2 linked regions of the Homo sapiens genome follow. The protein of the gene in region 2 interacts with the protein of the main gene of each other region in a biochemical or structural test. Each region holds a gene or a part of one and is shown on either strand. Other genes may lie near its edges.

What was found. The genes of interacting proteins can lie anywhere in the genome.
Region 1: the proteins of SMOC1 (region 2) and TNC form a complex in vitro, tested with the Homo sapiens proteins (one study listed by BioGRID).

Annotation. Positions count from the first base shown.
Region 1 is NC_000009.12:115,115,151-115,122,811, reverse strand, and holds the start of TNC (tenascin isoform 1 precursor), read left to right. Parts: upstream 1-4,654; 5' UTR 4,655-4,830; intron 4,831-6,288; exon of another isoform or gene 6,289-7,661. UniProt on the Homo sapiens protein: Extracellular matrix protein implicated in guidance of migrating neurons as well as axons during development, synaptic plasticity as well as neuronal regeneration. Promotes neurite outgrowth from cortical neurons grown on a monolayer of astrocytes.
Region 2 is NC_000014.9:70,029,401-70,032,884, forward strand, and holds the end of SMOC1 (SPARC-related modular calcium-binding protein 1 isoform 1 precursor), read left to right. Parts: intron 1-841; coding exon 842-858; 3' UTR 859-2,966; downstream 2,967-3,484. UniProt on the Homo sapiens protein: Plays essential roles in both eye and limb development. Probable regulator of osteoblast differentiation.

The DNA.
Region 1 (7,661 bases), on a different chromosome or scaffold from region 2:
CATGCTTTTCTCAAGGTAATTCACATTGTAAGCAGTTGGGCCAAATAGAACCCAAGACTGTGTGCTAATATCATATATTTTCCATTATGCAGCCAATTAGTTGATCAGTCAATCATTTCATAGGAACATTAATCAACCTCCAAGTGCTTTGGGTCTGTACAGGTGAAAAGCACAGTCCTTGGCCTCAAGGAGTCCTCACAGACCAGCTGGGCAAATGAATGAGTAAATTGATGATAACAATTAAGGTCTCTAATCATTTCATAAAAGTCACTTCAAGAATGCCTTTATTGCTTACCTCCAAAATCTGTGACAGGTCGTATGCTATTCTAAACACTATGATATGTAGGAATGATATTCAAAATAATTAACAAATAACATGACATAGGCAGCAGCCATCAACAGATGCTGGCAACAAAGAGAACTGCTGACAAACAGATGGAAAGGCACAGTGTCTACCCTCAGGTGTCCATGATCTAGCAGGGTAAACAGGCAAGAGAAATAAAATGTGCAACATACTAAAAGTTAAAAAATGGTGGTGTAGATGAGCATGAAGGAGAGGCCCTTCTCTCTGGATGTGAGGGTCATAAAACTTTGTTAGAAGAAGCACTATGAAGGAACTCTTGAAAAAAATAATAAAGGAATTTGTCATGGCAATAAGACAGGGTTCTTCCTAGGGAAGTGAATGTGCAAAGGCTTGGAGACTTCTAAATTATTTCTTTAAAGATTTTACTTGAGAGTTTTGAGTTGCTATAATCCCTGGGAATTCCCCACTTGCTAACCAGGACCCTGTGTGTCAGCGGGGAAAGCGATTTTCCCAAAGTCACACAGCGAGTTGATGCAGCATCAAGACTTAGACACTCAACCAATGCTCTCCACTCTGCTGTGCTGACCAGGCATGACTTCTTGGTTGATGGCGCAGCTAAATTGCCATAGTCCATCCATCAGAGAAGCTCTCATATGTCTTGCCACACACTCCATATGGTCTTTGAACTTGATTTTGTCCTTTGTTGTCGAAGGAAAAGCAAGAAGAGTTGGAAAAGACCACTCAACAATGATCTGCAAGCAAGTTGGGAAACCTTGACTCTAACAAAATGCATTTAATTAAATGACTGGCCCACTGTGTGGGATCAGAGATCCATCCCGGCTTTGGAAAAGATTTCTGGTAATTATGGAGTCACATGAGACTTTTGGACTGGAGTTAGCACACCAGATGAGATGAATCCCGGGAAGAGGAGGAGGAAGGTTGGGAACAGTGAAGGAGTATGTAATCAGAGTAGGAAGCAGGGGATTCCATGGGGAAGTGGACACTCAGCTTCCTCAGCACTAGTCCTGGCCAAAATTCCACTCATTGTCTGTTCTGTCTGGAAGAAAAAGTATTACATTTAACAGACCTTTAAAGAAATGAGAATGATCTCACCTGAGGCAAACCATGACATTCCTCTGGTCTCTAAACCACAGCCTCCACCAGCAACTCCTGAATAAGAACTGCAAACAAGCAACAACAAAATCAGTCTTTGGCAGGAAGCTCTGTGCAGGGGTGGTGTTTACATGCATTCATTCTACCCTCTCAAGTGGAAAAAAGTGCTTATGCTTCTCAGAAGGATGCAACCATGAGGGATTAGATGCCAAGAGGTATGGCCTCTGCCAAACAGGAGGAAAAATGGTTCTTCATTTCCATAAACTTCCTCTGCTGTAATGTCTAGTGTGGCTTGGTTGCTCAGTTCTGATTGTGACAGTTTTCTTCCTGGAAAGCAGGCATAGTGGCTTCAGACAAGTCATTCTTCCTCTCAGCACCCCACTTTCTGATCTGTGCGATGGAAGCATTGGACACAATAATCCAGTTTCCTTTTCAGGTTCTATGGTTGTAAAAGGAAGAATTTAATTATAAAGCACAACATGTCAAACATTTATTTGTTCCTCCATTACTTCATTCATTCTATAAACATTTACTGAGCTTCTATGATACCCAAGGCTCTATGCCAGGTACAGAAAAAGCAAGTGTGATCACCAGCCTCAGGAAGCCTAGCATCTAGGAGGAAAATCTAGACATGCACATGTGTAATTATACCATGTAGATGCAATGGATGTCCTAATAGAGTTACAAATGCCATAGTGCATAGAAACATCTCTTCCTAGATGGATTTCTTCCATTTAGGAAGCTCCATAGTGAAGTCAGATCAGAAATGGATGATAAATAGATGTGAGGGCATGGAGGTGAGGAGCCTAGGGCATCATCCTAGCATGAACAAAGTTTGGGTATTGTAGAGTACCTGGTGCATATGGACCCATCTACCAGAAACAGAGGCTGCGAACAGTACAGGGATGGAAAACACGTCCTCGTCTGGGCACTCCTTACTCAAATGCCAAAAAGCTTAAGATGCCACATAGCTTTTTGGAGAAAATGCCTTTTACAAGTAGCCTCTCCTAAAAATGCATAAATCATCTCTTCTCTATGTTATCAGAATACACTTATATGATAGTTGTTAACTTAACCCATAATAGTATTCTTGTTTGTCACCTCTGCTAGCCTTTTCCTGCTTTGAGGGCCAGCCTGGTCATATTTGGCTTAGTTTCCCTGTGATTGACCATACCACTTGTGGTAGACACTAATCAACGATTGTAGAATCCTAAAGAACTGGGGAGAGGAGTTCGAGTTTGAGACATTCCCCGAAAAAGCCATATCTATCTAGTTTTCTAGCATGCGCTCTTGTCTTATTTAAAAACTCACATAGAATTATAAATATATTGATTATATGTTCTATACAAATATAGTTTATATACCATATGACATATATTGTACACTATTCTAATATTTTAATCCCTAACCCAAGAGATTAACTCAGTAGGAACCACTCACTGCTGGTTGAGACACAGCTTCATGCTACTGAAATATCCTTTGGCTAAAGCACAGAATTTAAAACTTCCCAAACAACCAACATTTGAATCAGCCAAAATGGATCAAAAGTTCAAATGAGCGGTTTTATGACATGACTATTTATGGGCTTTCTTGCTGTCTGGGAGGGTCACTTTAGCAGAGAATCCTAAAATACTACAGCCAAAGCAACCGTAGGATGACCTAATCGTGTCTTGCTTTTTTTTTCAGATGGGGAAACTGAGGCCCACAGCAACAATAATAACTGTGGGGATGATATCATTTAATATTGAAAATAAGTGGATAATTGAGACCTCCATTATTAGTAGTTAATTTTTAAAAATCAAAGATCTCTCCTAATTAGCTTTATGGAGCAAATAAATATATTTTCCATATTCAAATATGGCTGTGATTTCTACACAAATGGTGTTAACAATCTAATACAGCATAAAACATTGTTTAAATATCATCATACCCTATTCCTAAACAGTAACGTGTAATAGATCTCTGGAGCCCAGTGTTGTAATATAAACACTTCCCAGGTGTATTCCCTTGGTAAAGTTTCATTACTTCTCTAAACGTCAGTTTTCTTGTGTAAAAAAGAGACACTTGTGTCTATCCTACTTACTGGTTACAAGGATATAATAAAAATAGTGAACAAAAATAGTGTTCATAAAGTACCCTGCACAGCACCTGATTATAGACTTAATAAGGGAGGGCTCAATGGTAGTTGCGTTTTGAATTACATTTAATGCTTCATTTTACTTCACTGTCACAAACTACTATGCTCTGCGGCAGGCTCAGAAGTCTCTAGGCACGGGTGAAGTGCTACTTCTCCACTCCCTTAAATGCCCCTGTATGCCCTGAGGATACTCAATGCATGCTAACCACCAAACGAACGGATGACTCAGAGCTTGGAGGAAATCCACGGCAGGCTGGAAAGCAAAGGCGCAGCTTATGGCTCAAGGATTAGGTTGTTACCTTTTTAAATTATTGCTTTTCTTTAAAGAAAGGGCTGTGGGGGACGCCTTTCAGCACTAAGAGAAAACCTCAGAAATCCTTCCCCCTGGAGACCCAGCTGAGAAGACCACACCAGGCACAGGGCATGAACAATGTCAAAAAGCTACTGCCCTGCAGGACACTGGGGCTGGAACAAAGATGCCTCCCAGCAGCTGGGCAAGGCTGGCTCCCACACAAGAAAAGCAGGGCTGATGTGAGCGTCCCGCACGATCCCCACCTGCTGAGACCTAATCCTGGGTTATCTCTCCGCTGGCCCAGAGAAACCTGAAACCCCCCAGGCTTTTGAAGGGCTTTATCTCCTCTTTCCAGGAACTGGGCTCAGTCCCTGTACTCGCTCCGAGGTGCCACTGAGCAGCTGCTGCCCAGAGCCCAGGCGAGCCCTGGTCCCATTTCCAGCTTGACCAAGTACAAGAGGGGAGCCAGGGCTGCGGATCCTACTCCCTCTTGCTCCCCAGGCATCCGTCTCACAATTAGAAAACCCGTGTGGGGAGCAAAGCAAAAATCACATTTCACTAACAGCTACTCGGGGTCGGGGGCGGGCAGGCGGGAATTCCTACTTTCGCCATAAATTGTATGCAAATGGGTTCCTTCCCTGGCCGAGAGCCAGGAGTGAGTGCGTCTTTCATGAGCTAACCCTGTTCCGCTGGGAGGGCTGTTCCTTTAATTCGCCAACTGAAAAAGTGGGAAAGGATGTCTGGAGGCGAGGCGTCCCATTACAGAGGAAGGAGCTCGCTATATAAGCCAGCCAAAGTTGGCTGCACCGGCCACAGCCTGCCTACTGTCACCCGCCTCTCCCGCGCGCAGATACACGCCCCCGCCTCCGTGGGCACAAAGGCAGCGCTGCTGGGGAACTCGGGGGAACGCGCACGTGGGAACCGCCGCAGCTCCACACTCCAGGTACTTCTTCCAAGGACCTAGGTCTCTCGCCCATCGGAAAGGTAAGTCTGTTTTGCCCTCATCACTAGAGATCCTTATGATGTAAGGATTGCATTCCTGGTACCAAATGAGTTGTGATTTTATATTATAATTACAAAACATATGGGGTTTTTTTTTCCACCGCTGGAAAAAAAAGGAGTGTGTATTGGTTATATCAGATGCACCTTGACTTTTCTGGTCTTGTAATTTTGTTTGTTTTAACTTTATGAATAGTCAGACTTGGAAGGAACTTTTCGTAAAGTTGTTATCTTCTGCTGTTCTGCAGAGGAAAAGTAAAAATTTTCTCTTCAACTGCTCTCCTACTTCTAGTCTGGCTGATTCACCTGTATATATCTTTTATTTTGAGGGTTAGGGCAGTAGAGTTTTAAGGCAGACTTTGCTCATAGCCTGCCCCTGGGATGGGTTAGAGGGAGTTTGATAGAGGAGTGCAGGGAGAATATAAAAGTTTATATCTAAACAGCACTTACATAAAGTTTACAAAGAGTTTTGTACCCATTCCCTCATTTGGTCCTCAAAATATTCACCCTGGAAATGAGAGCTGGGGGACAGAAGAGAGGAGGTGGCTCCTGGGCCAGATGAATAACTGACAGGCAGCTAGAGAGTGGTGGAGAACAGCTTTACTGGGGTGCCTAGAGCCAGCAGCGTCCCACATGTCTCTAGAATCACCTCCTCCTCCTCACCTCTCATCACAGAAAGATCTGAGCAACAACATCCCCCAGGTATGGGAACCCTGCTGCCCCTGGTGTACTTTGGAAAGAACACAGGGGTTCTTCTCACCCATCAGTGTTGTAAGAGGAATAAGAGCTTAGGTTTGAAGCCAGAGGTGTTTGGTATTCTCCCCACCACCATACATATGACCCTGAGAAAGATACATCACTTCCTTAATCCTCAGTTTTCACATCTCTAAAATGGGGACAATAGCGTCTGCTGTCGTTTTGAGGAGAAAATGAGGTATAGAAAGATCAGCAATGACTGCTTAATAACTGGAAGTTTGGATAATCATTGTCATTGCCAAAAACTGCCATCACTCTGGAAGTTAAAAGAGGCATTGAGCCAGTCTTGGATTGTTTCTTGTGTGTTGTTCCTCAGCCCGCCCCCAGCCCCCGCTTTTTATCTCACCCAATCTGAGGGTGTCTCACTAGGCTGGCAGGTCTGAGACTTGGCTGTATTTTACAAGCAGGAGGTTGTGTTGGCACAGGTTGGAGAAAAGGTAGTAGCCCGGGGCTGGAAGTTAATGTCAAATTTTGATTCCAGAATGTCAGGAGGTTTTGAGTTTAGGCATCTGCAGATTCTAAAGCTGACAGCTATGAAGTACGATGCTGTTGGAAACTCTTTGGAAAAGCTTTCTGTCCGGAGGGAGGGCAGGACAGGGAGCACCACTTGAAGAATGAATGCCTCTTTTTCATGTTTTTGTAGACTTTTTCCCCCATTTTTACAGAGCTTTCCCATATGTGTTTTAGAAAGGAAAACTACTATCCATCCCAGCCAGGCAAGCCCAATTCAGGACTGAAGAAGATTTATTCAGTCCTAGACAACCAAGTGAAGAGTTTCTGGCTTTGTGCGCATACAAGTCATTTGCAGGAGATGTAAGTCAGCGTGCTTTGGCCCTTGCATTTCAGGAAGGTGACTGCTTTGTGGGGAAGAAAAAGGTGCACAATATGAGTATTCTCTGGTTTGCTCAAACAGGGTAAATTGGACAAGGATTGAAAGGGATGTTGCCAAGCTCTACAGTCATTAAATATTTTTTTCCTCTATGCTTTGTTTTAAAAACCTAGCTTCTCTATTTTATCCCACACTAACCTCCTCCTTCCCCACTCTAAGAAGTGACTAACGTTTCAGCCCTCAACTTTGTCATTCATATAATGGAGATGACAAACTATGTCTCACAGGGCTCTTGCAACATTCAAATGAGGTAATATATGGCAAACACTTGGCATAGTACCTTCCACATATTAAGGGTTCAATAAATGGAAACTTTTCTTAGTTTCTCTGTTTATCATTTTACAAGGACTTGTCCAAGATTAATATTCTAAGATCATGATTTTTAAACTTATTTTTAATGATGAAAATATTCATTACATGAATTTAGGGCAAACCCCCAGTATATGACAGGTAAATGCAGGGCTGCTTTGGTTGAAGTGGGGTCACAAGGTCTAAAACTTACACCTTTGCTCTTAGCCTCTGGGACATTGCCACAGAATCTTCAATGACAAAAAGCACATTTACAAATCATGAAACCAGGCTGTGTGCATTCTGGTTGCCATTCTGCCCTTCAACAAGGATTTTTGCCCCTCTGAGTCACCATCTGTAGCAGAAGTAAGAGCAAGTCCACAAATAGTGTAATAGACAGGAATATGAATGAGAAATAAAAGACTTAACAAAGGCTATTTTAATTAATTCTAATGACAATGATAGCCAAAATATATGATGAGCCTACTCTCTAAACTGTAGGCTTTTGTGGGATCATCCACAGCATGTCTCTGAGGTATGGACTATATTTGTTGGACAAAGAGATGGCTTCAAGAACAGGGAGACTGAATAACTTTACCAAGGTCCTAGAACTCAGAGTGATACAGCCAGGTTTCACACCCAGGTCCCCGTGATCACCAAGTCAGAGGTACATTCTGCCGTGTTCCTTCTGAATGCTTCTCTGCTTCTTGCCTGCCTTTAGAAGGAAAACACTTCCTTTCTGACTAAATATGCCCCTCCAGGCAGACTGTGGCCACCCATAAATACAGCAGTAGCCTGATCATATAACCAGAATGGAATTTGGAAAGAGAATTCAAGCTGACAGAATGAAAAACATATCCCCCTTAATCCTACCCTTTCTAAT
Region 2 (3,484 bases):
CTTAGTGGATAGCTGAGGGATTGCAAAGAGGTGCCCAGCAGGAGCCAGGCCTTATGGAAAAGGGACTTTGTGTGAAGGCGTTGGCCAGTAATAAGTTCACCTGAGCCATAGACACTCACAGAGCAAAAAGTAGGGCCAAACAACTTTTTGCTCTTTCCCAAGTCTGCTCTTTATTCTGAGGGTCAGAGAGGACAGAGACCCAGCATACGGAAGAAGGTGCCAGTTCTCTGGTCAAGGCCACTCAATGTCACATGTTCCTGGTTTGTTGCAGGTGGTAGCCTTGGCAGTTTCCCCCAGGCAAAATGAGCAGGCACAAACCCATTCAGTAAGTTGCCCCTTTCTGGGCTCCTCAGGGGTGAAGGGATTGGCCAGGTGACTTAAGCTCCCATTTTCAGGTTGTTTGCTGAGGACACGAGAGAACTATTGGGTCAGTGCCAATGGGATTCTGCCATCCCCACCTGTAAACAAACCCCTGTCGTTTCCACCCCAGCCCCAGGTTGAAAAGCTGGCATGTGAGAGTAGTGTGATCTGAACAGAGTGCACACCCTGCAACCCACACTTCCCTAGGCCAAGCCTCGTTCTCTCCAATGCCAGACTTATTTCAGTTGCAGTGGTGGTGCCTCATAGTGGCAAAGGACAGGCTGGTAAAACATGCTCATCTGCAAGTCCAGGCAACCTGTGCCCCACCTAGCCTCATAGAGGACAGCAGGTGGAAAAGGCTGCACTTGTGGGGAAATTGATGGACATAGCTGGATTTCTCACAAGCCCAACTCTAACTTCTTGCTTATATCTGCCCCCGACCTTTTTTTTTTTTTTTTTGCATTCTCCTTCCTTCTCTCAGTAGGACGCCTCGTCTAAGGAGCAGAAAACCCAAGGGCAGGTGGAGAGTCCAGGGAGGCAGGATGGATCACCAGACACCTAACCTTCAGCGTTGCCCATGGCCCTGCCACATCCCGTGTAACATAAGTGGTGCCCACCATGTTTGCACTTTTAATAACTCTTACTTGCGTGTTTTGTTTTTGGTTTCATTTTAAAACACCAATATCTAATACCACAGTGGGAAAAGGAAAGGGAAGAAAGACTTTATTCTCTCTCTTATTGTAAGTTTTTGGATCTGCTACTGACAACTTTTAGAGGGTTTTGGGGGGGTGGGGGAGGGTGTTGTTGGGGCTGAGAAGAAAGAGATTTATATGCTGTATATAAATATATATGTAAATTGTATAGTTCTTTTGTACAGGCATTGGCATTGCTGTTTGTTTATTTCTCTCCCTCTGCCTGCTGTGGGTGGTGGGCACTCTGGACACATAGTCCAGCTTTCTAAAATCCAGGACTCTATCCTGGGCCTACTAAACTTCTGTTTGGAGACTGACCCTTGTGTATAAAGACGGGAGTCCTGCAATTGTACTGCGGACTCCACGAGTTCTTTTCTGGTGGGAGGACTATATTGCCCCATGCCATTAGTTGTCAAAATTGATAAGTCACTTGGCTCTCGGCCTTGTCCAGGGAGGTTGGGCTAAGGAGAGATGGAAACTGCCCTGGGAGAGGAAGGGAGTCCAGATCCCATGAATAGCCCACACAGGTACCGGCTCTCAGAGGGTCCGTGCATTCCTGCTCTCCGGACCCCCAAAGGGCCCAGCATTGGTGGGTGCACCAGTATCTTAGTGACCCTCGGAGCAAATTATCCACAAAGGATTTGCATTACGTCACTCGAAACGTTTTCATCCATGCTTAGCATCTACTCTGTATAACGCATGAGAGGGGAGGCAAAGAAGAAAAAGACACACAGAAGGGCCTTTAAAAAAGTAGATATTTAATATCTAAGCAGGGGAGGGGACAGGACAGAAAGCCTGCACTGAGGGGTGCGGTGCCAACAGGGAAACTCTTCACCTCCCTGCAAACCTACCAGTGAGGCTCCCAGAGACGCAGCTGTCTCAGTGCCAGGGGCAGATTGGGTGTGACCTCTCCACTCCTCCATCTCCTGCTGTTGTCCTAGTGGCTATCACAGGCCTGGGTGGGTGGGTTGGGGGAGGTGTCAGTCACCTTGTTGGTAACACTAAAGTTGTTTTGTTGGTTTTTTAAAAACCCAATACTGAGGTTCTTCCTGTTCCCTCAAGTTTTCTTATGGGCTTCCAGGCTTTAAGCTAATTCCAGAAGTAAAACTGATCTTGGGTTTCCTATTCTGCCTCCCCTAGAAGGGCAGGGGTGATAACCCAGCTACAGGGAAATCCCGGCCCAGCTTTCCACAGGCATCACAGGCATCTTCCGCGGATTCTAGGGTGGGCTGCCCAGCCTTCTGGTCTGAGGCGCAGCTCCCTCTGCCCAGGTGCTGTGCCTATTCAAGTGGCCTTCAGGCAGAGCAGCAAGTGGCCCTTAGCGCCCCTTCCCATAAGCAGCTGTGGTGGCAGTGAGGGAGGTTGGGTAGCCCTGGACTGGTCCCCTCCTCAGATCACCCTTGCAAATCTGGCCTCATCTTGTATTCCAACCCGACATCCCTAAAAGTACCTCCACCCGTTCCGGGTCTGGAAGGCGTTGGCACCACAAGCACTGTCCCTGTGGGAGGAGCACAACCTTCTCGGGACAGGATCTGATGGGGTCTTGGGCTAAAGGAGGTCCCTGCTGTCCTGGAGAAAGTCCTAGAGGTTATCTCAGGAATGACTGGTGGCCCTGCCCCAACGTGGAAAGGTGGGAAGGAAGCCTTCTCCCATTAGCCCCAATGAGAGAACTCAACGTGCCGGAGCTGAGTGGGCCTTGCACGAGACACTGGCCCCACTTTCAGGCCTGGAGGAAGCATGCACACATGGAGACGGCGCCTGCCTGTAGATGTTTGGATCTTCGAGATCTCCCCAGGCATCTTGTCTCCCACAGGATCGTGTGTGTAGGTGGTGTTGTGTGGTTTTCCTTTGTGAAGGAGAGAGGGAAACTATTTGTAGCTTGTTTTATAAAAAATAAAAAATGGGTAAATCTTGGCGGCTGTTGCCTCTTTCTTTGGGTGGCTTCCTTTAATGAAAAGGCTTTATTTCCTAGAAAGCTTAGTTCGTTTCCCTGGCCTGGGTGCTCTCCACTTCCATCCAAGGACATCTGAGGTGCTGCCAATGATGAACCTAGCAGGGGACCCGGAAGTGGCCAGTGTGGTACTGCACCTAGAGAGGGGACTCCCTTGCTAAAGGTGTTTGTGCACTCTCTGTAATTCTTCCTCTTACCTCCACCCACATGTCTGCCCCACGGGATGCCCCTCCCTGACTGCCATTCCCTTCCTCTCACTGGAATGTAGGGAATGTTGCTGGCAGAGCTTTGGGGGCAGGGCTTGGGGAAGAGCCTATTCCATGGCTTCAGGCTGTTGAAAGTGGGTACATTGCCATCATCCAGATGACAAGACGCCAGGCTGAAATGTAGCCATAGGTGGGGAGCAGACCCCCAGTGGAGTTTTTCAGCCTGTACCCCAGTTTTGTGGGGTATCTATTCTGGCTGAGGCTGCAGGTCTGGT